2 linked regions of the Homo sapiens genome follow. Changing the gene in region 1 together with any one later gene gives a genetic interaction. Each region holds a gene or a part of one and is shown on either strand. Other genes may lie near its edges. The genes, in order: AHCYL1 and GBF1.

Region 1 (15,920 bases):
TTTTCCACTTTTGTTGCATGTACATCTGTTTGTTTAGATTTTTTTTACAATGAGTATGTTTTACTTTTGTAGGTTAAAAGATTATTTTAGGCCGGGCATGGTGCTGATGCCTGTAATCCCAACAGTTTGGGAGGCTGAGGCAGGAGGATTGCTTGAACCCAGGAGTTCAAGACCAGCCTGGGCAACATAGTGAGACCATATCTCTACTAAAAATAAAAAATTAGCTGGATGTGGTGGCACACACCTGTAGTCCCAGCTCCGCAGGAGGCTGAGGTGGGAGGATCAATTGAGCCTGGGAGCTTGAGGCTGCAGTGAGCTATGACTGTGCCTCTGCACTCCAGCCTGGGTGACAGAGCAAAACTGTCTCAGGAAAAAAAAAAATTAAATTAAAATTTAATTTGAATTATTCAGCAACATAAGGTAATACACACTCATTGCAGAATTTTTGAAAAAGGAAGCAAGCAAAAATGAGAAAATAAAAATGATCTGTAATCTCACCACATAGAGGAAATATGCATTTTGGTGTTTACCTTTCAGTTATTTTTTCTTTATATAAATATATAATTTCATGTTTACCAAAAAATTGGGTCACACCGTGATGCTGTTTTCAAAACTGCTTTCTTTCAGCTACCAATATTATCATGAACAACTTTCCATGTCATTAAATATCCTTCTGCCAGGCTACACAGTATGGCCTTCTATGACTGTACGGTATTTTTAGTCACTTACTGCTGAACTTTTCTTTTGCTGTTGTAAGTGTAACATAGCGATTAATTGAACATTTAGTGTGGCATAATAACATGATTGAGAAATCAGCCATATCTGGTTTTCTTGGCTGTGGACTCTTCAGAAAAGAATGTGAAGCATTTTCTCCACATCCTGCCAAGGGGGCAGCCAGGGCTTCAAGTCCAGGATGTCAAAGAGGTTGGAAGGTGGTTTTTCCATTGAAAAGCAGAGTAGCCTTACCTGTGGGCAGTGACTTCCAGCACCAGGAAAGAGGGTGGGAGATCACGAGTGTCCACAAGTGGCAGCAGTTGAGATCCAACTGGAACTCTTCCCTCCACCCTGGGGATGGCACAACCTGAGGTAGAGCTGGGGGTGAGGGGGCTTGAAGAAAGCCCACTAAGTAGCTTGCTGCTGGGAGAGACCACTGTGAGTGGGCAGCTCCCCAGCCTGCCTGGAGAAGCAGTACCCACAGACAGGGAGGACCTGCCTACAGTCTGAGGGGCAGCCATTAGCAGTGGCGAGCTCCACTGAATCCCAACCAGCTGCTCCAGTCCTGCAAGAACGAACTCTTTGTTTATTTGGGGGTTTTTGTTTTGTTTTATTTTTTGTAAAATCCAATGAGCCAAGAGAGGAAGCCCTAAAAATGATATTAGACTTTTCACCCACTGTGGATGGGATTTGGGACCAGATTTAAATAAATGTGGGAAAATAAAAAATACTGGCATGTCTTTCCCATCAAGTGTCGTGAAGCTATTCCTTCCTCATTAATACGCAAATATGCAACACCATGAGGAGCATTCATGTGTTCATCCATGATCACTGGTTGTTCATTTCATACTTCTCCTTGGACCCCTAAGGGATGGCAGAGTCTGTTGAGTCAGCCAACTCCACGGACGAAGCCTCCTGGATTAAGGGACCTGAACTGAGCCAAAACAGATAAGGGTGGGAGAACCTGGGTCCAGTCCTCGCTGTGTCACGAATGTGCTTTAGAGTCTGAGCAAGTTTCTCACCTTTCTGTTCCTAAATAGAGGATTAACAAATAGGCTGCTCTGTAAAGCTCTGGGAATCTGTGGGTCATTGGCACTTGGGAGCCCTCAGCCTGTAGGGAATCTAGACAGACTCACACATCCACAGAAACCGCAAGCAGCTCCACATTCTCCCATGTGCTCCAGTCAAACCAGATTGCTGGCCATGTTCCAGAGCATACCCTACATTTCACACCTCCATATTCTTGCTCTTGCTGTTCCCTCCATCTAAAGTCAGTGTTCCTCATGTCCGCCTCTTGAAATCCTAGTCATCCTTTAAGATTCAACAAAACCAACTCTCCTTCACAAGCCTGCCCCATTCCCTCTACGGGGAGCGTCTTTCTTTCTTCTTCCACGGGCATCTTCCGCCTCTGACTGCAGTCATCTGGACACATTTTGCAAGCTCCCTGAAGGCAAGGGCTGGGCCTCATTCATCTCTGCATCCGCCACGGGACCCAGCTCAGGATCCTGCAAGCTATGGAGCAGCCAAATGTTTGTGGAACTAAAATTGGGACCTGGGCCTAGGCTTGGATGAAGTTTCGGGCTATTTCAGGCCCTGGAATGGGTGGGGCGATGAAGGGAATGTTGGGGTTGGGAGATAAAAGACCCGAGCGGGAATGAGGCTTGGGCTTCACTGACTGGAACAGCCTCTCCATCCCCACCCCTTGATGTCTCCTCATCTAGCCCGAACAGAAACAGGGAAACACTGTGTACTTGCGACTCTCTTCCATCAGTCTCTTGAGCCCTTCCAGGCCCTCACATCACCCACTCCTTCCCTGAACCCCTATAAAGAGGTCAAAGGGCCAAGCGGGTCTGCAGGAAATGGCTGAAGGGCCTTTGTGGAGAGGCCAAGGTCCAAGCTCCTGGTTCTGGCATGAGATCCATCGTTGCCGTTGGTCTAAAATATTGTGTTGACCCTCCGTCAGGACTCTGTGGAAGTGTGGAAGTGGCATGAGCTCATGTTGGAGGCTGAAGAGCTCTGTCCTCACTGCTGCAGAATGGGACAAATGCTGAGGGTGTGGAGGACAAGGCTTAACTCTTTCCCCGGGGAAGAGGCCAGGCTTGCGTTGTGCATGTGGAGCCTTCAACCCTTAAAAGGCTGTCCAGGCAGAGCTCCTGGAATCGTGGAGGAGAAGGGAGGTTTTCAAGACCAGGGTTGAGAGGCATGAGGAGCAGCCTTGGGAATCCAGGTTGGTTGCAGGGAGGGCTTGAGAGGGTGAAATGGTTAATGGTTTGTTGAAAAACAGGGAGAGTCCCTCCTCCAGGGGCCCAGCTGGCTGCAAAGCCAGGAGCAGAGACTCCAAGGGTGATGCAATGGGGCCCGCCCTGCACACCAGAGAGGGTGAGGAAGGCAGGCTCCCACCCCGCAGCAGCCTCCGCACCACCAGCAGCCGACCACTCTCCTCTGGCTCCAGCAAACCAGCCACAGGCCGGGCCCTTCAGGGCAAAGGGGCAAGACCCTGAGCACCTGAGCTTTGGGAGATGGCAGCTTCTGTCTGTTCCACTCCATCAGCCCCAGAGCCTTTCCAGTCAAGACAAATCCTCTACTAGCCCCCAGCAGGCATCCTGAAGGAGTACCCACCAGGATATCAAACCATCCTGGCCACCTGTGTCTCTGCGATTCCAGGACTATTTCCAGTCCTAGAGGCAGGTTGCAGGTTATGGGTAGAGAGGCAGGCCTGGGAGAGGCAAAGACAGGCAGTGTCCTCCCTTATCCCAGAAGCTGACACTTACATCTCACCAGCCCACTCACCATTGCCCTGGGGGAGCACATCTGCCAGGGAAGCAGTATCCCAGAAGCTTCTAAAAGACTTGGGGCTACTTCAAGGGTGGGTCAGCATCTCTGAACTCGGGAGAGAGACTGCTCTTCCTTCCCTAGCATGGGGCTAGACACAGCCTCAGAAGCAGGGAGAGGAAGCATGCCACACACTCTGGAAGACCGCTCAGGGTGGGGCACATGGAGACAGCAAGGAGAGGGTGTGCCCTCTCAGACAGTACTGGGAACCTTGATTTTCTGACAAAGCTCTGCTATGGACTCTAAGCCCCATGAGGACAGGAACTGTGTCTGTCTTGTTTACTGTGGGATCCCTGGCGCTCAGCACAGCTCCCGAGACAAAGCTGATGCTCAGTAAATAACTGACTGGGCAGAGGCCAAAGTCCAAGGCCAGTTTCACAATTTCTACTTTTTTGGTAAACTCTTCACCATCCCCACCTCCATCCTCCCCGCTCCCATATACACACTTAAGAGCAGGAAAAAACATACAAAGTAGCACAAACAGTCATCAGAACAGATTTCTTGAACATTGTTTACAATTGGTGGATGCCTTCTCAGTATGAACTTTAATGTGTGGCAGCTTTGGGAACTGAAGTAAGATACATCAGGATCTCTGGTCCAACCTAGAAAAAAAGCATGTGAGGAAGTTCCAAGGGGCTGCTGGTCACACAGCCAGACCCCGGGGCCAGGTTGGGCCAGGAAAGCAGCAATTTCTCATGGCTGGGGCAGTGTCAGCCCTCCCTTTTGAGGAAACACATCCACATGTCAACAAGTACTCAAAACCAGCAATGACAATCCTTTCCTGCAGCAGACGGGTTTCTGCTTATTCCTGTCATTCCGGGAAGCGGAGCGAAGAGAGAATTCCAAATTCTCAACAATAGCTCCTTTGCCCTCCATGGTTAGCCTGGACCCACATCTTAGTACCTTACATTTGCACAATATTTGCAACTTGTTCAAAGCTTTTGCATATTTATGATCTTACTGGATTAGGTCATTACAAGCCCCAGATGGAGAGCTATCAACCTGTCTTGCATGAGGAAGAGGAGGTCAAAAAAGGTCCAGGATGCCAGTGGCCAAGTTAGTAGCAGAGTGAAGATTTGAGCCCACATCTCTGCCCAGTTTTCCTGCTTCCTCACACCATGCAGCCTCGCCATGAGTCAGCTATCACGAGTTCCAGACACAGGACCTCAGATCCTCTAGGGCCAAAAGGTGCCTCCTTATCCTGGTCCTTGTTTACAGTCATTATAACTGCCCCCACTACTTACATTTTTGCTCCCTTTCTCTGGCAGGAGCTGGTGCTGTGACCCATCTTCGCCTGTTTTGCTTGAAAGCCATCCCCACACCCACTCCGAAACCACCTCCCTCCATTCCATTATATTGCACTAGTTGGAAACAATTCAAATACCGAACAATAGGAAAACAGTTAAGCAAACTCATAAAGCAATATGACAGAAAGCTTGGAAAACATGGACAATAATAACAAGTATGTCAATGCTCTCCGTTCGGGTCATGTGTTTTTGAAATATTGTAATTTGATCAAAGCAGAATACAAAAGGACATGAACCTACCAATCACAGGTATGTAAAAATGAGTTTCTGCAAATTGCTAAGAACTAGGAGTGAACTTAACAAGATGAAAAGAAATTTTTAAAAAATCTTCATGGATTTTTCTTTCCTATAATGTTCAAAATGATAATAAAGAGTAAGTGATCCTAATAAATATGACAATAATAAGCAGAGGGGGAGACAGAGAAGGAGGAATGTTTTCCCACTGGAACTGGAGAAGGGGAAGGAGAAAAGGCTGAGGGTAGGGAGGGAGGGAGCTCGGTGGGAAGTAGGAGCCAGGAAGCCTGAGGACCAGCACCCACAGCCACAGAGGTGCAACCGGGAGCCCACCCTCTGGGGGTCCCTAAGGGCCAGCGAGGTAGGTGACCAATCTGAAGTGGTGCTCCAGGGCACCTTTCACAATAATTACAATGTCAGTGGTGCCTCCTAGAGCTGTGCAAGGTAGCAGTTCTGGGACAGAAAGAAGCCTGGAGCTGGAGGGTTTGCCCATGCTGGAGAGCTAGAGACAGAGCCACTGCCCTCTTCACCTTCTTCCGAACTTCCATTGTCACCCAAGATCTCTGCAGTTTTTCTGCACTTTCATTCCAGAGGGCTAACATAACACCTGGCCGACAGGAGGTGAAAGGCCTTCAGGAGGAGCACAGCCTCCCCCTGGTGGGGAGCCTGACTGGCAGGGAGCGGGCAGTTCCAAAAGGTGCCAACCTGGGCTCCCCTGAGACTCAGGGACAGTGCCCTCCACAGACATATCAAACTCAACATGTCCCAAGCTGACTCCTCTCAGCAGCCCCCCTCCACCCCTCTAGCCACACTTGCTTCTCCTCCTGTGCTCCCCAGCATGGCAGACATCACCACCACCCACCCAGGGCTTAACACGCCCTGCAGGATCTGGCCCTGGCTTCAGCGCTCACTTCACCCTGCTTTGCACCCTGTGCCCCACCCACATGGGGATATTTACAGTTCCCGTAATATGCCAAGCTGTTTCCATCACCATGCCTATTCTCAGGCTGTTTCTTCAGCCTGGAGAATCTTCCCTCCCTTGCCCAGCTGCTTATCTGTCAAGACTCAGCTCTGGCAGCATCTCCCTCTGTGTCATCCCTTTGCCCTCCACTGCACCCCACCCCCATCACCTGTCCCCACGTAGAGATCAGCACCTCAGCTTATTTATCTCTGTAGTCCCGACTGACATCTAGCCCTGCTGCTGGCACTTCTTCGGCACTCAATATATATTTTATAAATAAAAGAACAAATGACTGAATGTAGAACATCAATTTGGGGGTGGACAAACAGTGAATCTGATTAACAAGACCAAGCCCACGTGTGGTAGCCCAATGCCACTACATTTCTGGTGACAGCATCTCCCAATTCACCACTGCCCTTAGGCCACTCCTTTCTAGCAAGGGTCTTCGCTCCAGGCCCTTGGAGACTTCCCACCACCACACACAGCAGGTGCATCTGTCTTTGGGTCCCTGTTCTTCTCCAATTGCCCCGTGGGGGGTCTCTCACCTGTGTGTGGATGCGCTGTTCAGGGCAGTGAGCTTGCCAGTAGAGGTGCTGAGTCAGGTGGGTGGGTAGGCTGAAGACAAGTCATCTCTTGGCATTCATGAGAAGCAATCGCCTTAGCTGTGCCATGTGAGGCTATCTTAGGATGGGTTTTGGGGGTGGGAGACAGGATGCAATGATTCTCACGGATGTTATGTTGTCACACTCCCTGGCTGGGTGAGCTCTTTGCTCTCCAGCACACACGTGATGGAAGGGATGGCAGCCACCCATGCCCCCTGCAGTGGCTGGTTTCCAAGAATGTCCCGGGCCCCTGGCCTCACTTGAACCACATAGGCCTAATGCTTTCCACCAGGGTAGGGGGTGCTGCCCTTCCCCTTTCCAGTCTGAGTCCCCGAACTCTCCTACATCAGCTCATCAACCTCCCCTCAGGCCAGCCACTCAGGTGAGTGGAGTCTGACCTGCTGATCTCCTTCTTAGCCCAGACTGCTAAGGTACTGCATGCTCTAGGCCTGGCCCTGTCTGTCATCCTCTGTAGCAGCAGCAATAGCAGACAACACTGTGAGCCTGGTGCTAGGGCAGACCTGGTCCAGGAGGAGTAAAGACTGAACTTCAATCTCCAGGAAGCTCACAGTCTGGATGCTTAAATGCACAGCAGAACTGGGGGACTGAGAGACAACATGTTTAGACAAAGTGAGTTCTAAAAATCAAATCCAAAAGACAGATACACTGATGCTTCTCTTTAAAAAAAAAAAAAAAAAAAAAAAAAAGATCTTCTTAAGTCACACATTTTTCTACTATAGGGACTTGAGATTTCATCCCTGGTTCCAATGGGTTCTGCCTCGAGTCTTTGGGCAGGCATCTCTGATCCCTGGGCTCTGCCAACAGTTTGGGCAAACCCACAAGGATGAAAGCCACTGTGAGCCTTATGTTCAGAGAGTCCTTAGTGCACCAGGTGTGGTTCCTGACCCCTAGCTGAAAGATGTCAGTCTGGCACCCTCATGGATGAACCTGGTATTCTGGTCTCCATCTCTGTTCCCGTTCTGCTACAGTGATGCCCCTGACAGGGAAGTGTGAGTGCTCAAAAAAGTGAGCAGATGAAAGAATACAAACAGTTCAAGACCAAGGTCTGCAGATGTGCAAAGGGTGCATTCTTCCAGGCACTTCTACAGCCCTTTTCAAACAGACAGTCTCATGAGGCTAGGTGGCTGGAACACAGGATTCCCTGACTAAGACTTTTAGGGCCCTAGAGGTGAATATTTCACACTCTCCCCAGCCCTGAACACAAATCAGTGGGGAAAATGCCATTTCAAACCAAAACTTCCTTCTTGAAAGGGTATGCCCTGTTAAAAACCTGGGAGGTTTCTGGATGTTAAAAGGTGGTCCTGGCCAGGCGCGGTGGCTCACGCCTGTAATCCCAGCACTTTGGGAGGCCGAGGCAGGTGGATCACGAGGTCAGGATCCGAGACCAGCCTGGCCAAGATGGTGAAACCCCGTCTCTACTAAAAATACAAAAATTAGCCGGGCACGGTGGCGCACGCCTATAGTCCCAGCTACTCACTCAGGAGGCTGAGGCAGGAGAATCACTTGAACCCGGCAGGCGGAGGTTGCAGTGAGCTGAGAGCACTCCAGCTTGGGCAACAGAGCGAGACGTCATCTCAAAAAAAAAAAAAAGGTGGTCCTGGGGAGGAATTTAGGGAAAGGGCACTGGGAAGACTGGAATTGCTCAGCACAGCAGAGGAGAATCTGGCTTCCCAGAGTCTATCAAGGAAGGAAGGATGAGGTGCAGAGATGGGAAGGGAGGAACAGGAGGAAGCTAGATTAGATGGCAATGGGCTAGGGAGCGTGGTGGGATCTTGTGGCCATTGAGAAATCCCCGGGTGGTAAGACAGCCAAAATAACTTTTCAGAACATTTCAGAAATGTGTTCTTAAATTGTTTGCTGTGTGATGTAATCTCTCCCCTGTGACCCACAAACCTTTATTAAAAGTTTTACTACATGTTACAGCCTTATTTTGTAGTTGTTTAGCATGGGGTGGGGGTTGAAAGGAGAAGCGGCTGAATTGACCCCAGGAGCTACAGAAACAGTCACAAGACCAGAATAGTGAATAAAATGCCAGACAAGGCAAAAAAACTAGAGCCAGAGGTGACCATGAAAATCCAAGTCCTCCCAGTAATGGACTTTCCACAGGACATGGTAATTGGAGCCAATGTCATTTGAATCTCAAAGGACAAGCTACCTCAGCTGACATTAGGATACAAGCAGGTTTTGCCTCTCCAGCTGAACTAAGCCTTGCAAAACATAAAATGCGTCACATGTCCTTTTGCCAGCAGGGCCTCAGCACAGGCACTGCACATAGTAGGCCCAGTAAAAGGGTGTGAGCAGTCCATGAATGTCCTGGATGCCCACTGAGAGCTGGAAGGGTCTAATGCTTTGGTGGAGCAAGGACCGGAAGGCCATTCTGGCTGGGGACTTCTCCATCAGCTCTCCTGGTCTCCACCCTCATACCCATCAGCCCTATCCCAATGAGGGTTTTGTAAACAGGCAAGGCCCAGTCGGAGATGGTGGTGGAGGAAGTCACAAAGCGTTGTGCAGAAACCAGACTACTCTGAGTCAGTTCTGCCCCCTATGAAGTCAAAAAGACAGGCACGGCCCCTTGGGAAGGAGCTTTAATCCAAAGGGCCTGGGGCTGGGCCAGTGAGTGAGTGGGCTGTCTCGAGCCCCGGACATTTCCTAGGAATCGCTGTAGGATGTGTCGTGTGGGGCTCTGGTCTTTGCTCCCAAACACCCCTTTCATGCGCCTCTGAGGCCTTGCCAGGAACCCCGCAGCCCAAAGACCCTCCGTTCCGCAGCATCGTTGCATGAACCTCGCGCTGCTCCCAGGGCTGATGGTGCCACCTGGTGGCACAAAGGGTCCTGCTCACCCTGGGAACTTCGCTCTCGAGCGGGAGAGGAACGGCTTCTGTGGCCCAGCCCAGCGTGGTGACGTCACGACAGAGTGCCCTTTCTCCCCGCCTCTTCCCCCTCCCGGGAGCTGCCAGTACTTGACGTGGCGTCACCGCCCTCTACCCTCGCTTTGCGTGCGTGTTTGCGTACAGCGGAGGTGGCGGCGCGGGCAGGTCGGAGCTCGGAGCTGCTGTTCTGGTTCTCTTGTGGCCGCCGTCGCTGTCCGGCTGCCTTGGGCTGCCGAACAGACAAGGCGTGGGCCACAGCACCTCAGAAGCCGACGCAGCTCGACGCAGGGGCCGGCAGGAGGGTGGGCGATCGCGTGTCGGAGGGCGCCGCGCGGGCAGGCGGGCGGGCGCCAGAGGGGGAAAGAGGCGGGGGCGGCGGGTCAGCCGCTGGCCGGGCCGGCCGGGGAATGTCGATGCCTGACGCGATGCCGCTGCCCGGGGTCGGGGAGGAGCTGAAGCAGGCCAAGGAGATCGAGGACGCCGAGAAGTACTCCTTCATGGCCACCGTCACCAAGGCGCCCAAGAAGGTGCGGGGGCTCTGGGTGGCGGCGGGGGCTCGGGCTCCGGCCTCGCGGAAGGGACGCGAGCAAGCCCGGGCTCTGGCTAGTTTGGGACTTCTGGGGGTGACTGGGGACGGCGGAGGTGATGTAGGGGGTGGCGGCTGTGCGGCCCCAGGCCTCTCCCGGGCTGAAAGGCCGCCTCTGACCTCGCTTTCCTTTGTCCCTCGGCCCAAGTCCTCCGGGATCGTTTTGAAACCCGACAGGGCCAGGCCTTAAATTTGCGACTGACTTTTCCTGGATGAAGGGCCTCGAAGACGAGAGTGGGAGGGGGTGAACCAACTCAGCTGACCCTTGTGACCAGTCCGGGGGCATGGGGTGTACAGAAAATCTCCCTTCAGGTGAGTGGGTAAATCTGGCAGAACTTCCATCAAATCTTTGGGAGCAGTGGCCGCTTTATCCAACAACTGCGTGATAGCTGGGAGGCAAGAGAAAAGAATGCGTGAAGCTAGCTCTGATATACAGGTGAAAGCGATGAGGGTAACATGAAACTGAAAATCTATGATTTTCACTTTCTACAGCATTCCAATTACTTCGAAATATGTAAGAAATTGACATTTGGAGGTTGGTGACAGCAGACACTGTCATGGATACAGGTGGATCCTAGAGTCATGTGAATAGATCACTTAGGCATCCCTGGAGAAAGGAGCTTGGGTGGGTTGGAGTAGTGGGTGGTAAGGGAAGATTGCTCACTCTTGACTGTACTTTTGAGGCAGAACAAGTTTGATCTATTGTGCTGTAGGTTGACTCAAAGGACACCCTTCGAATTCTCTCATAAATGGCAACCTTTGGAGATTTTAGTCTGACTAGCTCTCCGAGTGGTGGAATTGGGATCCTTATTGCTTTCTCATCATTTACTGCCAACCACATCTTGATTTTCCATACACCTGGCACCCAGTTAGCAGTAGACCAGAGAACCTTTACAAAGAGGTGACCTTCCTGAAGCCAGTGAGAACCCAGATAAATGTCTCCCTTCTTTATAAAGACAGAGTCTTACAAAGCTGTCTCTGCCTGCATCCAGTGTTTAATGGGATGCAGGGCTGAACAAAGCAAGGGCTGCAGGAATAGTTAAGTCCTTGAGGCTTCAACTAGTTAAGCTGTCTTAAGTGGGAGAGATGGCTCTTTTTTTTTTTTTTAAGTGAATTAACCTGCCACTCCAGAAATCAAATGCAAGATCAAAAAAGACGAGTCGCCATTGTGTGCTTTCGCTGTTTTCTCACAAAATTAAGAATTTAATTCCTTTAAAAGATTGTGGAAGATTCCTTGACTCTGAGGCATCTGATTAACTTTAGTGCTGAGAGTTCAGTTGACTGCTTTGTTGGGACAATGACCCTTTGCAATCTGCACTATTCTTTGGAGAAACAGTCACAGTCCTTATAAGCAGAATGATTGAGGGTGGGACCTTAGATGAGTTAGAGGAAAGAATGGGAAAGCCCTAATACCTGAATTTCCCAGACTCTGTCTTCTTTGCTGTTACTTGCCTTTATGTTAGTAAATCTGTATTCTTGAAAGTACCACTGTTGATAAGACAAAGTCTATATCGTAGATTGTAAAAACTCATTAAGGCAGGGATTCTTGTTCACCTTTGTATCCAGTGTGCCTAGCTTTGTACCCAGCATACAGTAGGTACTCAAATATTAATTGCTCACCTGGCTAACTAGTAACTGAGATGTCCATGTGGCCACCTACCATGAATAACTATCCCTTTTCCTCTCTTCTTCCCAGGAGGAATATTACTAATGTGTATTATTGTCAGGCCAAGTGCTGATGATTTTAGACTTATATTGCATTAGCTAAAAGAAGCAGGCTCTGCCAGGAATGTGGGAAGACCCTGTTTTAAGTTTCCATTTACCAGTAAATGTGCCCCACCGTGTTTCTTATTAATCTTTCTCTTCTAAGTTTTATTCTTTAGCATTTACGTAGTACTTTGTAATAAAGTGTTTCATGATGACTAATTACCCTTTCCCTAGTGATGATAAAAGACATTTATTAAGTTAATGGATCAGTTGAGGACTAGTCAAGGTCACATAGCAAGTCCTAGGCAATCTGTTTTTCAGAACTGCTGAATTGAACATTAAGACTTAAGTCACTTTTGTACCTCTGCCATGTGTTGATAACGTGAAAGCATGGGAAAAGTAAGAGGGAAAAAAGTAACTTGGCATGGTACTTAATGGTGTGAGAAAAAGACCTCTTCAAATGGTGCAGTCCTTCACCTATGAGAATTCTACCCTGGCTCTAGACCAGTAATCCTTGGATTATTCTGAAGCCCTGAGGCCCCTCAGGAATTGAGGATGTTCTTGATGCCAGAGGATATAGGTTACTTCAGGGTGACCTTGATGGTCCTCAGTTAGATCAGATCCCAGTGTCACTTTCTGGTCAGCTTTTATTCATTTTGTTTGCTTTGTTTGAGACAGAGTCAGCTTTTATTCATTTTGTTTGCTTTGTTTGAGATAGAGTGGATGTCCATCAATTAAAAGCATAAATATCTAGATTCTTCAGCTATAATCATGACTTACTCAGTTTTGTATGCCAAGGTCTATCACACTGCTATGAACAAAATAGGACTTGTTGGTTTGATTGAAGATTTGAGATGTCTGGGTGTCGAGAAGTCAACTAAAGGGATATGACCTTGAGCAAATTAATTAGCTTTTGTACCTGCATCTCCTCATCTGCCAAATAAGTGCCTATTTTTTTTGGAACAGGTGGAGATAGGGGCATGTTGGGGAGTTAAGATAGCAGTGTAATTTTTTAAAAGTCTATTCGTATATTTATATTCTTTCTTCAATGGGCATTTGAAGTGGCTTATAACACAGAACATATATGTGATATAAAAGGAAGTAAAAACTATAGAAAGAATGAAAAAAATATTGTTAACCTCGAGGGCTAAGATAGTTGATGAGGTTGATCACATGCAACTTGAAACTTTTAGCAGCCAGAGGATGAAAAGAATCATAGTTACAGTCTCCTTAGCAGGCATGGGAAATAATACATGTCAATTCCTCAAGGGGACGACTTTTCCTGACACAGAGTTCTAAAATAATTTTTCACGGGAATGTCTTAATAGCTGTAGTGTAATTCACATTGTAAGGCTTGTTCACGACTGTCACTGGTGATTTCAGATGGTATGGCTAGGAAAATTTGAGGTAAGAAAAGGAATCCTTGAGTTTTAAGAGTTAAGTGTACCACAACTGAAGAAGATCCTTGTTTAATGTTGGCAGTTATCGGTCAAACCAAGTAAGTAATCTAGTTCCCCATAACCACTGGTTATTTATCCCTCTTTTGCTGCTACTTTGTGTAACAGGAGTGGTAACTGTCCTTGGACCTTTGGAAATTGACACTGTGTCAAGTTGATTCTTTTTTCATAGTGTAAACCCAAATCTCCAACTTGTTGGAGAGCTCTTACAATAAGCATGTTTCTCCGGAAGGCCTTTCAGAACATTTGCTGTTCTCTGAACTTCTGAACATTAAAGGCACTCTCCAGAGTGATCCATTAAACATTTTGACCTAGGATCTGTGGAGTCAGACCCATCAGCAAAATGTGGGGAAGGAGAAGAGCACAGAAGAAACTACTTTTGTTTATAGGATATTCTTTATTTGAATGAAGCTATGTGCCACTAATTCATCAAAAGGGTCAGCTGAGACTTAGGAAGCACACCAAGTAGAGCCCCAATGGGTACAGCTTGGGTGTTAACCCGATAGGTAAAATCCAGGTTTCTCCTTTTGTCATCAGAGTTATCTTACGGTTAATTTTTGGTGCAGTTGTATAGAATTTACGCCAGGACTTGTCAGAATCACTGAAAGGAGATTTCATAGGTTGGCATTTCCTATCTTCACATCATTAGTATCTCTTGATTCTCCTTAGAGTGGCTGCTGTTGTAGTAGCAGTCTTTAAAACAGGAGTTGGGGTGTAAGAAGATCCTCTTTTTAAGATTTCTCCGCAGGTATTGATTACATCTCTTTTTCTTGTTTGGTTTAGTTAGTTACACTCTAGTTTCCAAATTACTTTGTTCCAAGTTTCTTTAGACATTTAGCTTGTAACAGAAATCTGTTAGAAGATTTCTAGATCAGTAGTTGTCTAGATCTTTTGCTGCCAAGGTTACAAATGTATACCTTTTCTTTTATCAGGAGTGTGTCATTTGGATCCAGAGTGTTTTACCCAATATAATATTCTTTTTTAAAATTTATTTTTATTTTTTATAGAGATGGGGAAATCCCTGTGTTGCCCAGGCTTGTCTTGAACTCCTGGGCTCAAGCGATCTTCCCACCTCAGCCTCCCGAAGTGCTGGGATTACAGGCAAGAGCCACCACGCCCACCCCAATATAGTATTCTTGGAAAGTTGTCTATAAAGGATATTTTGATACATGGAATCATGCAGGTCTTTAGTTGCCTGTGACTCCTAGCAAGTGTACTCTGCCACTCCGAGTAGTTAATGATCTGTAAATAAGCACTTTAATGCCCTCTTGGGGTTGTTTTAAAGGAACTGGCGAATAAAGGAGAATCATTTATACGTACCTGTTTCTCAAGTTTGGGAATGTGAGTATTGCATTTTTATAAAGAATGTCAACCCTGATTATACTGGATACATTTTATTATAATTTAGAACTGAATAGTAATTCAGAACACATGCTAATGAGGTGCGTCAGAAGCATTCCTGTCATGTGAAGGGCAACCTACGTGCATAGACCAGAATTTTTTCTAGCCTGAAATCTGAGAATCCCCAGTTGAAGACAAATTCTTACCACAAATTTTCCTTTTGATTATTGTCAATACTATCAGTGCCTATTGTGTAGTAAGCAGTTAATAAAAATTCACACAGAATTGCAGTTGCCTTTCCTTTTCTGATTCCATATTTTCCTTTGACTCACTCAAGTAGTTCTTTTGTCCCACTGTTGCTTGGCTGTTACATAAGACGCCTTTAACTTCCCGTTTCTGTTCCTAAAACTGTGAGTAGTAGTACAACATAAGGTAAGCACTGATTTTTGGAGTCAGTTTTACCTTTAGTCTCTACCATCTAATAGTTGTGGGACATTCAACAAGTGACGTCCTTTTCTCATCTGTAAAATGGGGAACAATGATAGTGCTATCTATATACATGGTTGAGAGGGTTAGCATTTAGTAAATAGTAATTAGTGGGGTTTTTTTGTACCTAGAGTGACCATATATCCTGGTTTGCCTGGCGCAATTCTGGTTTATACCTGTTATCCTAGCATGCAGTCCAAGGAGTGCCTCCGTAGCTCTGAAAGTTACCCTGGTTTATGTGGCCACCCTATTTATAACTCTCTGGATGATGCAACATGATAGTGCAAATGAGAGCCTAATTTTGAAATGTTAAAGAGCCAAAACAAAGAAGTTTCTATTGGAATGTCTTTTCAATAAGAAAATTTTTTTCTGACAAAAATGTTATTTTATATAGAGCTTACAGCTACTGAACCCCAAAACATTTTGTTAACTACAGGGGTGGGGTGTGTAGACAGAGATCTTAGAGCTTTTGATGGAGTTGAGATGTCCTCTACCTTACCATTCCCCATTCATCCCCCGTAATACATAATGCACTCATAGAATGTGGGTATTTGTCAGACACTGGGCCAGTCTCAGTCCAGGAGTTTATTTCCTTAAACTTCAGGTGTTTGGGGTTTTCCCAAACTAGAATCCTTGAATTACATGAAATAATTGCAAAGACTTCTGAACTGTGACTTTATCATTTTAGGTATGTACTCCAGCACCCCCGCCCCCATCCCTGCAGGTACTGTTTTCTCATTGCTCTTAACAGCCTGCTTCTAATTATGTATAACTGATTTTCTCCTGTAGAAATGTGTGGCCT
Region 2 (15,079 bases), on another chromosome or scaffold:
TGGGCAGCAGCCTGTATTTGCACATGGTAATGCCCCCTTCAACAGCTCAGAGATCACAGCTGTGCCCCCACTCCCCACCCCACCTCTCAAGCCAGGTTGGGAGTGGAACCGAGGTCAAGGCAGGAGGTTGAGAAAGAGTCCCTGCTCTTTCCACAGGCAGAGGGGTCTAGATCTTGGACCTTTTATTGGGTGTGAAGAGACAGGGCTGGAGGGAACCCAGGACAGGAGAAAAGTCAGGCCAGAACTGGAGGTGTGCTCAGCTTACTTCCCCTTCCAGGTCGGGTCAGGTCAGGGGGTTTGGAGCTGGAAAACTTTGGCCAACAATGCTCTGATGGAAGGGAGATGTCCCTGAGAAGGAACTATGGTAGCCTTGGCTGGGAAGATGAGGGAGGAAGGGTTAGAACTGAGAGTTGGAAAAAGGGGTGCTCTGAAGTCTCCCCTTACTTCATACCCCTTACTTCATACCCAAGATGCCCTTGAAATGCAAATCATCCCCCTGACTTTTCCAGAGGCCATGGAAGCAACATGGAGCTGGGAAAAAACCCAGAGAGGGGTTTACCTGTGGGAAAAGCAGTCCCACCCTTGCCACCTAGCCTTCCAGTCAGCTTTGGCTCCCGACTTGCAGTTTTCCAAATTACCCTGTCCCCGGCATTCCATACCTGCATCTTGCTTTCACTTTATTTCAGCAGAGGGAGGCAGGGTGAGAAGGGATATGGGCGAGGAAAAGCCGAGGCCAGAAAGCCGAGTTCAGGCTGCGTGTTCCCAGAGACAGACAGACACATGTGCAGACACACACAGGCCCCCACTCAGACATAATAAGCACTTGGACTTGGAGCTAGGGGCACACAAACACACACTCTCCCACACATGCGCTGCCACATCCAGGCAGACAGACACGTACCGTCACACAGTCTCCTCTCTGTGACAGGGACAGCTGCCGGGGCTGTTTTGGAGCTAGCCATTATTACCCTTCCCCCACCCCCCACCCCCCCACCGCCTCCCTGGCCCCTCTGAACCTCAGCTCTCAGTCCCAGGAGCTAAGGACTCTGTGTGGGGGAGGAGCAGGCCAAGGGGCCAGGGGAGTGTTCTGCACTGGATGCTGCTGAGTGAGGAGAAGGCATGAGAATGCTGGAGCTAGAGGATGGGGTGGGGAGGAGGGGCAGAAAGTGCCCAGGCCCCTCTCAGGAAAGTCATCTGGTATAGCCCAAAGAAATTAGGTTTAGAGTCAGCAGATCTAGATTCACGTCCTGGCTGTACAACTTACTAGCTGTGTGTCCTCGGCAAGTTACTTTACCTCTCTGAGCACATTTCTTCATCTCCGAAAGGAAGTTCATGATCCCTTCCCTACTTGCCTTCAGTGTTGTTATAAGGTTTAGATAAAAACATAAACATGTAAATATGAGTAGGGATAAAACTCTACCTGAGTAGTTTTTTTTCCTCACTCATTAAACAAATGTTTATTTAGCACATTCTATGAGCTGGGCATTGAGTTAGGCACTGAGGGTGGAGTGGTGGCTAAGATCTCATCCCTGTGTCTGCCCTTCCTTGAGTGAGTCATCTGCCCAGACTCTGTATCCTCCAGTGAAGTGTTTCCCTGGTGAATGAAGGTGAGTACGCTGCATTACTGAGAGATAGGCAACACATGCTGTGAACACTCTGTCCTGAGCATAGGTGACCCAGTCAACAAGGTAACAGCAAAATGGGCAGAGTAACCCAAGCTGGGAGCCACTTTGGGGACAAGGGACTGGTAGAGGAAAGAATGAAGCCTTTAGGCTCTTGCATGGGCTAGTAACAGCAGAGAGAGGAGCCACAGCTGAGAAGGGACCTGACCGTGAAACTGAAGAGAGAAGGAAAGAACAGTAAAGCCAGGCAGGCAATAGAGAGATGGAAGGGTGGGGGCATAGACCTCTAGCCGACTCACGTCCGGGTGGGCTGGTCAGGCAAAGGCTGGGGGCGCCAAGCTGTTGTCTGAGCTGGAGACAGGCTGGCTGAAGATTAAGCTCCCCCAAACTGCTGGAGGTCAGGAAGCTAGGGAGTTGGGACTGAGGCCAGGGACTTCGCCTCACTCAGTGGATAGGGAAGAACAAGCAGTAGGTCTGGAAGCCGCAGGATTGGTTGATGCTAGTAAGAAATGCCCAGGCAGGGACAGAGAGAGTCAGAAGATAACAGTGATGGTGAGTCCAGCTCTGGAAGGGGGCTGCCGGCCCCACCCCTAGACTTTTTGCCACACCCTGCTAGGGATGTGAGGGATGTGTGGCCCAGTCCCACTGGTATCAGGGTGGCAATCCCAGGCCCAGGGAGTACAGAGGGCCTACAGGTATGCTCTGATTCTGTAGTACAGGCTGGAATTACAGGAAGCCTGGTCATGGACTGCAGCAAGAATGAAATATCCAGGACATATGAAGGTGGAGAGCAGATCCCAGGCCAGGGAGGCCACAGTGGGGAGGCCATGGTTTCCAAGAGACACAACCCCATGGCAATAAGTCAGCTGTCATGTGGACCCACTTAAGTCCTGAAGCCAGAGAGGTAGACCAGGGACATAGTGAGAGCCCACAATCGGTTGCAATAATAATGCCTGAGGCTGGAGGCATAACCTGGAACTCAAATAGGAGAAAACCTTTCTCATTCAGGGGCTAAATGGAGAGATGAGAGGAGCTGGAGTTGTGATGTTTTCATCTTATAAACATGAAACTGAAGTGAGGTCCTTAAGTGGACATGGCTGCATGTTCATTAGGGACGCTGAGCACCCAGACTCTATGGTTTGCTGAACTGCAGTGTGCAAATGGGAGCAAATCGAGACACATTTGCAGCAAAGATTTGAAGCACTCAAGTTATTAAGGGACGATTCGGGGATCAGAGAAATGACTCCACAGTCTTCCTGCTCTTCCTTGCTTCCTTCCTTCAGCAAGTATTAGGTGTTAAGAGGGATCCCAAGAACAGTAAGGCAGAGACCCTATCTTGTAGGAGTCTGCAGTGTAGGGAGGCAAACAGAGCACAGGATGGAAAGATGGACCGCATGGGTCTGACTCCCAGACTGTGGGAGATCAGAGAGAGGGAAGCCCATGGAAGGTGGTACCGAGTGTTGGGAGCTCAGAGAATATAGGCACGTGACTGAATTGGGAGTTCAAGAGGAAGAGAAGGGGTATGGCATTCTAAATAATCAGCAGTGTTGGGAATAAGCTGGCAGGCTGGGAGGGCAGTGGTGAGCCTAGGTTAGTCAGAGTCTCAGTGTAGGCCACGGGAGATCTGCAGAGAGAAACGAGTCAAACCGAGGGGGCCTCCAATGGGGGACAAGGGGCAGTGGTTCAGATTTGACAAAGTCTAGGCTACAGTATGTCCAGCTTTTTCATCAAAAACCGCTAAGATTCACACTGAGCAACAGCCCTGAATAAAGAAAAAAACCCTAAGACCAGTCAAAAACAACATCTACTAGAAAACAGAAGCATGACCTGAAACAGCTGCCACTAGTATGAAATTGTTTTGAGGTCACCAGCTTTATGTTAAAAATGCAAACAAATTTTTCGTTCTATTCCATACTTTAGTCATGGATTATAAAATATTTTAATATAAAAATAAAGCTTTTTTTAATATAAAACCCCCCAATCTTCAAGTGATATCACCACACCAGGAAGATGGGCCCTGTTTAGACTGTGTGTCATGCCTCCTCCACTCCCGTACTGCCCTCCTCCCCCGCCCACCCCACTATGAGAAGCAATGCACCAAGCAGTAGGGGTCACTGGAGGCTTGTATCCAGGGGTGTGACAAAAAACAGCATCTTTGTGACCTTTATTTGACCATGGTGAGCATAAAGGGTTGGGCAGGGAAGAAATAGGAAAGGAGAAACTATTAACTGAAAGGTGTAAAAAAGGCCCCGGGGCAGGACAATGGGAAAGGAGAGATAGAGTTTTGAAAGTTATTCCTCTCTGTCTTCCCCCAACTCTTACCCCACTGATGATCTTTTCCTTTTCCTCCCCATCATTCTTTTCATGAGTCCCTGGCAGTGGCCATGGACACCCTAGACACCCCAAAGCTCAGGACCTAATGGATCCTTCAGGTTAGTCTAGGAGGCATCATTTAGTGTGAATGGAGAAGAAAAGATTCTACTGGCCCCATCCTTCAGTCACCACAAGTCAGCTCTAGCCTGCTGCGTTTGCCCTCCCGTCCTGAACCTGAGTCCTGGGCCAATGTTCCCATCCCTGAGCAGGAGGCAGGCAGAGATATTTGGCCTGGTAGACAGGCTGAGCATTTGGGGAGCTCCCCAGAGTTCTCAGACAGCGGCAGGGGTAGTGGCCAGCATCTGAAGTCCACGATAGGGTGGCCCGTCTGTCATTAAGATCCCTCCTATGGCTGCATCAGGGATGAGATTAGGCTGCTCTAAGTCTCAGCCCCACTTTTCCAAACAAAGATTCTGCAGCTTGGGCATAATAATAGCAGTGCTTCTTATTTATATGATGCTCCTCCATTTGCAGAGGGCCTTCACAGACATAATTTCATTTAACTCGCACAACTGCCCTGCATGGCTGGAGTGCCTATCCCCATTACACCTCTAAGAAGGCAGGATGCAAGGTTACACAGTTTGAAGAGATTTGAAGAGATTCAAACCATCTAGTTCTGCTCTTTCCATGCCTCACTCCCTCCACCCTGTAGCCATTTGTGACTCTGACATGTGCTGATCCTTCCAAACCCTGAAGGATTCCATTTCTACTTCCTGCCTCTATCATCTCTCTGGAAATGAGCTCTGGAAGTATGCTGCCCACTGTGTGCCAAAGAACATTTTTCTATTCATCCTGAGCTTGCATCACTCCAGTTCTAAAAGGCCCCCTCATCTCCAGTTTCAAGATTTGGGGAGCAAGCAATTCTTCTGCATATCTAGGTCTTTTATTATGCTGTAGATTTCCATCCTGTCTCACCTTCCAGAGGACTAAACTTTGAAATTTGCCCTCACCAGCAACCCCTGGCTCCCCATTCTGCCAATCATTCTCTGACCCTACTCTAGGCCCATGACATTCTTCCTAAGAGCCAGTGACCAGGCATGCGTTCAGTTACAAGGCTTTATGCAAGGGTGGGAAAAGGTTCTGTCTTTTGTTTCCAATCACCTTCATTATGATACCACCTCTTTGGCCTTTTTGGCAAAAGCCAACTTTGAGCTAAAGTCTTCAGGGAACCATCTGTAATGCTTTCCCTGTTCCTTTCCTGACACAGAGTCCTTCATTTCACCTATAATTTCAGTGATTTTATGGGAGCACAGCAATGGGAGCACAAGCCCCTGAAAAGTGTATCAGAATGTGATGGGGATAATTGTGGTGTGTCTTTATATTGATCAAAATAGGGCAAATGAAAAACAAAAGTTGAGAATCCTAGCCAGTAATAAGCAAACTTTAGAACTGAGGAATGGACATGGGAGTATGGGGAATACGTATTGTATGTCACTCACAGGTGAAGGGTAAGAAAGGTTGAAACCACTGTTTAGATTACTCATTGCTAAATACAATGCCTTGCACTTGTCCTTGTGAAAACTCAGTCCCCAGCTGGGCTATCTTGCTCACTTATATGGACTCGTTCTCCCTGTTCTGTCCTCTTCAGCATAATTGAGCTGTGGTTAGAATTGGGGTCAGGGTGGATGGTCACTGTATGGGCCCAGCAGAGTCAGGGCTGTATCCCAGCTGCAGGGAAAGTAAACCCGGCTGTTAGGTAGGGCCAAGATATCCTTCCCAACCAGACTGAGAGGGCCAGATAGCCCCCTGTTGGACTCCAGAGTCTGGATTCCATGAGCCTCCTTCCCACCTCCGCTCAGCCACCAGGGTGGTGTTGGGACTGGTAGGGCTGAGGAAGAAAAAGGGAAACAGGACCACAGGATTTGCTTTGCTAATGGGGCTGTAGTTTTCTCTTCTGGCCTGGGCTCCTGCCCACTGTAGGGAAGGAGCCATTGGTCGCCTGATACTCCAGCAAGGAGTCTGGGGGGTGTCTGGTTAATTGTATTGGAATTAGGGGGCAACTGAGGCTGCCAGGGGCTTGTACCCAGCTCCTTCCTGTTTTCCCATTGCCTTTTGTCACCTATTCCTTCCTTTCCTGGTCTTGATTCCCACTAGCAGGCTCCTCATTGGCCTTCTGTCCTCAAATTTGGATTCTGGAAGTACAGAGTGATGCTCTGATCTATTCTGAATTGAAGGGGGCATGTGTCCCAGCCCACCTCACCCCAAGGCCAGGTTGTAGCCTTTACTCTCGCTCCCTGCTCACAGCTTCGCAGCCCGAAGGAGCTGAAACAAGTTTGCAAAGTGTGAGCTGGGATTTGAGGTGACCCACCGCAGCCGACCCCATCGCACACGCAGCAGCTGGGCAGGCGCTGCTGGGTAGACGGACATGCCACCCAGCCAGGGACATTCTGTCCGCCACTGCCAGACACAACTCCCGCTCCGGAGAGACCCACTTCGCTACCCGGACATTCTGTCCGCTCCGAGCCCCATGCACCGCGGACATTCTGTCCGATTCTGAGGCGGCCTCAAGTCAGGACCCTTCTGGGCCCAGACACCCCAAGCCAGATCCACTATACCCGCCGCCTGGTCACTCTGATCCGCACAGCGGCCATCTGACTCAGTCGCGGCCGGGCTCTCACAACACAGCTCCTATTCCAACTGCGGAGCAGCTGGGAAGAGAAGCGTGTGCGACCAGGCGCACCCCGGCTCCCAGCCCCAGGAGTCTGAGCCTAGGCCGAGGGGCATCGGGCGCCGTCAACTGCCCCCACACTGGGGGCCGCCCCGCCAGCTCCCCCGCTGGCCAGGGCCTCTGTAACCCCTTTCGCTCCCTGGCCGCCTGCCCCGTGCCCTGGGATTCCAGGGCGCTTTCTGGTAATGGTTTCCAGACTCCCTACTCCCTGCCTCGCGAAGCCCCTATCCTGGTTTCAAGTCTCCGGCTTCGTTCCGGATCCTCTGAGTCTCCCCCTTCCCTATCCCCTGGTTCTTACCCTGAGTTTCCCTTTTCCCAAGTCCTGGCCCCAGGTCTGCAGTCCGCCCTCCCATTCTCGACCTGTTCCCAAGGCACCGGAGTTCAGCTGCCCCAGGTCTCGTTTTAGGGATTCCAAGGTCCAGCAATAGCTCCTCGGCCCCATGAGCCCCTGTCCTTAGAATGGTCAAACACTCACAGTGCGTCCTGCAACAGGCAGACTCCCAGTAGCGGCGGCTGCGGCGGCGATCTAGAGGGCAGGCAGGGGCCAGGGGCCGGGCACCCGGCCGGAGTGGGGGCCGCCCCCCTGCTCCCGGGCCGCCTCTCCGCTCGGGCGCTCCTGGACTCTCGGAGGGAGTGAGCCTCACCGCGTACTGCCACCCCCAGCCGGCGCCCATTCACTTTATGGCAGACCAGGGCGCCCCCAGCCCGCCGCGGCGAGCCGCGCGCGTCAGGCCCCGCCCCTTTCCAGCTGCCCTGCTGGGGCTCCGCCCTTTCCAGCTGTGGATCTCCAGGCCCCGCCTTTGAGGGAGGGGTCTGGCCGGCGAGACGCCAAGAACCCCGCCCTCTGGCCAATCAGAAGCGCTCTTCAGCAACTCGGCCGCGCCCCTCCCCACGTGGCAGAGACCGCGCTCCGGCTAGGACGCTTAGGCAGAGCCAAGTGGGCGAGAGTAGAGTGGTCCCGGTAGCCACGGGTAAAAGGGATCGGCTGGCAGCGAAGTGGGTTGGGCCGCTACCCCGAGGAAAGTGGATCGGCGCCAGGTGGGAAGGCGCACGGGGCCGCCGGGTCTCAGCGCTCAGACTTCTCTGCCACTCAAGTTTCGCCGATTTTCTCCACTTGTCGCTGTCCGTCTCTCCTCCCTTTTGTCTCTGTTCCAATCCTCCCACGTCTCGCCTTTCTTTCCTCTTCTTTCTCCTCAGCCGCTTCGCTCCTGCTGTTTACCATTCTCCTTCCTCTGCCACTTTAAAAGACTCATTTCTCTTTCTCTCTGCTCCTCTTTCCTCATATCTTTCCTCTTCTTCATTTCCCCCTTCTTCTCCAAGGAAGGTGACTTCGTGGAGACAGCAGGGTTTGGAATGATACAAACCAAAGTAGTATTCCAACGCTGCCACGAACTGCACCATCACTGAGTGAACTTGGACGAGTAACTATCATCTCCCTCCCCGCGCAAAACAATTAAGAGGAGGTTCCTGCTGGATCTCAGGGCTTGGGCTGGGCACTCCAAAGGCATTGCCTTTCAGTCTGTACCCTTGTCTTGCTTAGGCTGTGCTCTCCCTCCTTCAGCAGGGCTGGTTTCCCGCTGGTGGTACCAGGTTAAGTCCTGTGGGCAAGGTGTGGCCTTGGTGCCTGCTGGTTAGGAATTTGCAAGGGACAGGACAGATGACCAAGGAACATCCTGGCAGACTGTGACTTCGGCCCTCTCTGACTTAGGCCTCAATTTCCAGGAAACAGGCTCCTTCTCTTCTCCCAGTTAGGCTATGTTGCTTGGGTGCTCCGAAGAGCCTAAGCCCAGGCCAAACACTGTGGCTCATGCCTGTAATCCCAGCACTTTGGGAGGCCGAGGCGGGCGGATCACAAGGTCAGGAGATTGAGACCACCCTGGCTAACACGGTGAAACCCCATCTCTACTAAAAAATACAAAAAATTAGCCGGGCTTGGTGGCGGGTGCCTGTAGTCTCAGCTACTGGGGAGGCTGAGGAAGAAGAATGGCGTGAACCCAGGAGGCAGAGCTTGCAGTGAGCTGAGATCGCGCCACTGCACTCCAGACTGGGCGACAGAGCAAGACTCTGTCTCAAAAAAAAAAAAAAAAAAGAGCCTAAGCCCAGTCACACAATATGCCCCTAAGGCAAATCTGAGCAGTCATGTCTTGACTGTTCAGTGACTCCCATTGCCCTTAGGATAAAGGTCAAGCTCCCTAGCCTGGCATACAAGACCTTCAGGACCTGACCTTGTCTTCATCTCCAATTTCCTAGTAGTGTCCTGCACACCTCTGGCCCTTCCTGTGAAAGTAACCCATCTTTATATTGTCAATTCCTACTCCTCCAATGTTCCACTCAAGTCTTATTTTCTCTGGGAAGCCTTTTCTGAACTCTCAGTTTAGCCCCTTGCTCTCATGACCCTCAGTGTATACCTTCTATTACACCACCCACCATATTGAAGGGATCAGCTTATGTGTTGTCTGCTATGATAATAAAATTTAGGAGGGTAAGGACCATGTCTGTTATTCCCAGGCATAATGTAGAATCTCAATAAATGTCACACTGAAATCTATGAGGAAGATGTTCTGCCTGGTAAGATGATGATTAGTGGTTAGGAGGGACTAGGGAATTGTCATCTCTCTCCTCCCCATCTCTATTGCACAATCACATGCTTTTAGAATGATGAATTTCTGGAGGTATGTAGAAGTAGATATTGGCGAGCAGAAATTTTTGGCCCACTTAGAGGATTTTCCAATCGGCTTTCCAGGACCTCTCAATCTGAGACAGGCCCAGGACACCAACTCTCAGTTTTCAAATGAAGAGGAAAATGGCTTTGAGGTAATGTGGAAAGAGGTGCTATGATGGTATATCCTCTTTCCCTGACTCTCTTTGGGTGATAGAGGCTAGATCCTCAGCTGGACCCACCGACCAGAAGCCCAATGTGCAGGTGTAGGAAGTTACTGAGGGGTTCTTCACGTCTGATATCTGATGGGTGCTTTACACTAGAGCATCGTGGCCAGGTGTGGTGGCTCACACCTGTAATCTCAACACTTTGGGAGGCTGAGGCGGGTGGATCACCTGAGGTCAGGAGTTCGAGACCAGCCTGTCCAACATGGTGAAACCCCATCTCTACTAAAAATACAAAAATTAGCCTGGTGTGGTGGCAGATGCCTGTAATCCCAGCTACTTGGGAGGCTGAGGCAGGAGAATCACTTGAACCCAGGAGGTGGAGGTTGCAGTGAGCCAAGATCACAGCACTGCACTCCATCCTGGATGACAAAGCAAGACTCTCTCAAAACAAACAAACAAACAAAAGACAAAAAAACAAAACAAAACAAAAAAATAGCGCATCGTAGCACACGGATGGTCTTTGGATGTCTGGTTTTGAGACTACTTTCCTATGTGGTTAGTTATAGAGCTTCCCTGGACTTGGGTCGTCCATAATTGGGAGGATGTATGGAAAGAATTAGGTATTTTTTTTTCACTGCCTCCCAGCAGCTTCTCCAGGTCTGCAGGGACACTGGGGCTCTAGTGTCCCAAATAGGCTGGGAATTTCATGATTCAGTCTCCTAGGAGAAAACCCATCCTCTTGTCCTCTTCTCACGCATTCTCACTTCCAGGTAATACAGGTAATTCTAAATAGCTTAGTAACCTCTATCATCTCTTGCAAGGGGAGGAGGCAGCTGGGGGCAAGACAGTGAAAACAGGTGGGCATCCAACCCTCAGGCCCCTTAGCGTTTCTAAGGCAAACAAGAAAGACTTCTGTTTCCTATCACTGATGAGGTGGGCTAAGCTGCGTATTTAGCCTGGTGGATAAGGCCCGTCAAAGGCTTGGTATGAAAGGCAGACCGGGAGTCAAAGCCCGATATACTAAGGCATAAGAGGTGACAAAAGGCGATGAAAAGAGTTGGCCTGGGGGTGAGGAGACCCAGGGGTTCGTCTCTCTGCTCTGCTATTTACTAATTATGTGAACATGGGCCCAGCCTTCCACCCTGGGGCTGTTTCCTATAATGTAAAATGAAGAGACTTAAATTAGATATCCAGGGCTTCTGCTACGTCCCATTTTCTCTATTTCTGGATGATGGGAGTGGGGCAGAGGACGCTGAAACAGAGTTGGGACGTGACAGACATAACTGTGAGAAGCCACGACAGGGAAGGTGGACAAGAGGGCGAGGAGAGCAGGGTGTGGAATAGATCGCTGGACTTGTTTTTAGAATGAAGGGAGCCCAGAGCTGCCTCGAAAAGGAGTGATTCCTCAAGGGGCATGGTCTTGGCCCAGGTAACTTTGATAATACGTGGACAGGGGAGTAGGGATGCCCGCTCAAGTTCTCAAAGCGGACCCCGCCCCTTTCCAGCCAATTGTAGCCTTTTTCCCCATAATGCCCAGCAGCCACTGCCAAACCGCGCACTGCAACCGAACTCTACCTAACTCCACCTCTCTAGCCGCCCAGCCCAGTTCCTCATTTTTTATTGGTTTTTTAAACTGTCACTCAGAGAGTACTCGTATCCGTTGGTTGTCCCCTAACATACCCTTTCTTTCCCTTGTAATCGCGCTTCTTTAGGCACTACCCGCCTCCTGAAGCCAATTTCCTTTATTCGATTGGATAGTCGGAATGCTACTTTTCACGGTGCAAAGCTATGATTGGCTGCGCGCGGCAGGGCTCGCGCAGTTACCAGGCAGCGGGCTAGACTGAGGCTAGTTACCACGTCAGTGAGCTGACAGGGAAGGTACCCGGCTCTACTGCCCGTCCCGGACGACTCATCCTGGCGGACTGTGCAGTCCCACCCTGACTTCGGCCTCAATTTCCAGGAAACAGGCTCCTTCTCTTCTCCCATCTGCTACCAGAGCCGGGAGAGCTGCTCGGAGACGCCTCCGGGGTGCGGGCTGGACATGAGCAGCGGCTGCCGGTCCTGGGACTAGGCCCCGCCATTTTGGATCCGCTGACAGGTCAGCGAAGTCTCTTCCTAGAGTTCCGGTGTCGTGAAGGCCGCCCTGACATCGCAATAGGGAATTAGTGGGAAGGGCCCTTAAATTGGGCGAGCCAAGGTGGGCTAAGGACGCAGCGGACAGGAATAAGACGAGGGAAGGGTTGTTGTGGGAGGGAACAGGGAGGTATGCAGGGGCAAAGGTCATGCCTCTGCCGCAGGAGGGGCGATTTCTGCTCTCATTACTGATCCTTTGCAGGTGCCCAAATCTTCTGTTTTCCCAGGCTTGACCTAGTATTTAGCTTCTCCTTTCCAGCGCTTTCTGCATCCTGAAGAGCCCAGTACTCAAAAGCTGAAAGCAAACCTAAGGAGCATTGTGTCTACTTTTATGGGTTTTCAGACTTTAGATGTGAAAGTCTCTCTAGATTCTGTACAGCGTCTACTTCTTTGTGATTGCCTCACTAATACAAAGGAACTGCTTCATTAATAATGATGAACTAGTGCACCCTAGAATCAGGTTGTCAGCAGAGGGACGTGTGGAAGGCTTGAGGTTATAGCAGCGCAGGGAACTGGGCTATGAGAAGGCTTCCCTCTTACAGGACAGCTCAGCTGCCAGTCTGGGTCTGTATGTAAACACTATACTTATCTTCTGGGCCTGTTTGTTCCTTTATACAATCTTTCACAGGCATTCTTTTGTAGTGTATGTTTTTGTTGACATTTTTCTCTCAGATCTTCACTAAGGAGATGAGGCTTAATCATAAGGAAACCACTCTATTATGACATATTTGACTGACAGCAGAGAGAGATATTTGAATACTGGCAAAGTTTGGTATTGTCGGCCTATTATGTTTAGTGGGCAAAAAGAGTCATGAGAGATTTTCAGCCAATTGTAGGGTCAGAGCCCCAGAGTGAATGATGGAACATAACCCTAGAGAGTAGTTTATGGCACTGTGATGACCTTTGATAAACTGCTGTGTTGTAAAGCTATAAAAGTCCACCAAGGGTAACGAATGCTTTTAGAAATAAGGAATAGTGTAGATGGTGTTTTTTAATGCACAATGTGGAAACTTGTGCATTAATTCAGGTATAAAAGGCACTCTAGGCCCTGTGGAGGATACAAATGGAAAGGTCTGCTTTGGGACTGCTCAGTTAATGCACTTCTTAAAAGTAGTAGCATGTATGTGCAGTGGCCTAGCTAGAGCATGTAGTAGGTTAAGAGCAGGATCAACCTAATACCTTTTGGTATGTAGTGGGCACTCAATAAACGTTATCTCTATCTGGGATTAGTTTCAGTATGTGATCAGGACTTGTGGCCTGCTTTTGGCCCTGGCAGTCAGGAACACTTTGCACTTTTGCATGATGAGGTAGTAACAAGGAGGATCAAAACCTCATAGTGTCAGAAGAGAAAACTATTTAGGATCTTGGAATGACTAACTCAATTTTTCCTACCTTTGTCCTTATGAAATTGAAATTTCATAATTTCCCTTTTCCCTTCCTACCTTCGTCCTTATGAAATTGAAATTTTTGTGTGTGTTGGGAGAAGGGGGATGGCATTATTTATGCTTCACCTGTGTTGATTTAGATGGAAATGGTACAGGAAACTATTTGCATTTTAACTTGCTGATCTAAGTTGTAGAATTCCTCCCCTCTCCCCGCCCCCAAGAAAGTAGTTGAACGCAGCAAATGAAATGACATACCTCAGGAGGTACCCAGGTTTGATGATCCTGCCTTGCTCACTTGGGCCATTGCCCTGTTGAGTTGATATGCTTTGCATAACAGGCAATCTAGTCTCTGGGTAGGCAGTGTGATCAATCCAGGATCCAGTCATCCTCAGTTGAGCCTAAGGGTGACTATAGAGGCATCAAAACGTTTTCTCTTTCTCTCTCTTTCTTTTTTTTAATCCTAAATGTCATTTCTAGATAGGAATAATTTTCTAGATAGGAATAATTCCCACTCCTACCCACAAATCAGAAAATTCATCCTTCAAATACAAGTCCCAAGCTTGTATTTGAGCTTCTTTTTAATGGTGTTTGTAGACAGTATGTTCCAGTCTTGACAGTGATGCTCATTGGCACAGTGGGAACTCAGGCTATAGACATATCTCCTCAGTAGCTGGGCACCAATCCCAGTTTCAGCTCAGAGTTCTCAAAGTTACACTACTATTTTATTTCCCTCTTTTCCAGAAGTCAGGATGACTGCCACTTTCACATAATAACCTCATTGATAGGGTACTTAGACTGGCTGCTGTGGGCAGCTAAAGAGGAAGAAGACACAGCTCTTGCTTTTGAGGAGACTCTATTTATAGAGTACTCACTGCAAGGATCACCCTAATCTTTGTATGACACTTCTCATTGATTGATCACACACTATATCCCTGTGGCTCTGTGTGACTGATTAGAATGATTCTGTTGTTGGGTTAATGGTGGGATTGAATTTAAGGGTGTATGTTTTTGTTGACATTTTATCCTCAGGCTAGAAGAGCTATGTAAATATAATGAGCTGCTGTTTAGCTGTTACTCTTTTTTTTTTTTAATATTTCAGTATGTTCAACTGCAGTTGTTTAACTAAATGAAAATATAATAAAGCAGTGTGCTGATTTGGAACCCCAATAATAATAGAAGTGATCATAGAAGTGATTATTTGTTCTAGTAGTAGTGGAAATTACGATAGATGCAATAGTAGTGTAAATGATCATGGAAGTATGATGGCAAAGTAATGGTTTGCCAATCATATAAACCAGGGGTTACGAGCTCATGTGCCTAAATGCCAGGCAGGTAATGTAAATGAGTTAATTGAGTCCCATGGGAATGTATTAGGATTAGTGGGGACTGTTGTGTACTGGACAACCCATGCCTTTATTTTTTTTTTGTCTTTAATTTTAATTTCTTTTTATTGAGACAGGGTCTTGCTCTGTCACCCCGGCTGGAGTGCAGAGGAACGATCACAGCTCACTGCAGCCTTGACCTCTGGGCTCAAGTGATCTTCCTACCTCAGCCTCCCAAGTAGCGGGGAACACAGATGTGCGCCATCATGCCCAGCTAATTTTTTAATATTTTGTAGAGACAAGGTCTCACTGTATTGCTCAGGCTGGTTTCGAACTCCTAGACTCAAGCAGTCCTCCCACTTTTGCCTCCCAAAGTGCTGGGATTTTAGGAATGAACCACCATGCTCAACCCATTCCTTTATTTAGAAGAGCCAACTGCTCCTTTTTCAGCAGATTGTTACTGTTTTAGAGTGCAGGCACAGAATGACCACTCTTTCTATTTTTCAGGAGAAACTGGAAATTTAGATCATTGTGTTTTCTAATTGTTGGAAACTAGTTAAAAGTATTTTTAAGCCTTTTTCAGGCCAAAGAAAATATGTCTGTGGACTGGATTCTGCCCAATGGTTACTGGATGATGACCCTCAATAAACAAAATGGGCAGGCCTTATGAGACTTAATCACTGCAGTTCTCTATACATAATCACATAGACTTTTTTTCTTTGTCCTACTCTGCCAGCTGTCACCTTTGTA

What was found.
Region 2: changes in AHCYL1 (region 1) and GBF1 together harm fitness less than expected from each alone (positive genetic interaction), as found in Homo sapiens cells (one study listed by BioGRID).

The regions. Positions count from the first base shown.
Region 1 is NC_000001.11:109,975,105-109,991,024, forward strand, and holds the start of AHCYL1 (S-adenosylhomocysteine hydrolase-like protein 1), read left to right. Parts: upstream 1-9,660; 5' UTR 9,661-9,948; coding exon 9,949-10,068; exon of another isoform or gene 10,069-10,439; intron 10,440-15,920. UniProt on the Homo sapiens protein: Multifaceted cellular regulator which coordinates several essential cellular functions including regulation of epithelial HCO3(-) and fluid secretion, mRNA processing and DNA replication.
Region 2 is NC_000010.11:102,234,195-102,249,273, forward strand, and holds the start of GBF1 (Golgi-specific brefeldin A-resistance guanine nucleotide exchange factor 1), read left to right. Parts: upstream 1-11,337; 5' UTR 11,338-11,587; exon of another isoform or gene 11,588-11,686; intron 11,687-15,079. UniProt on the Homo sapiens protein: Guanine-nucleotide exchange factor (GEF) for members of the Arf family of small GTPases involved in trafficking in the early secretory pathway; its GEF activity initiates the coating of nascent vesicles via the localized generation of activated ARFs through replacement of GDP with GTP.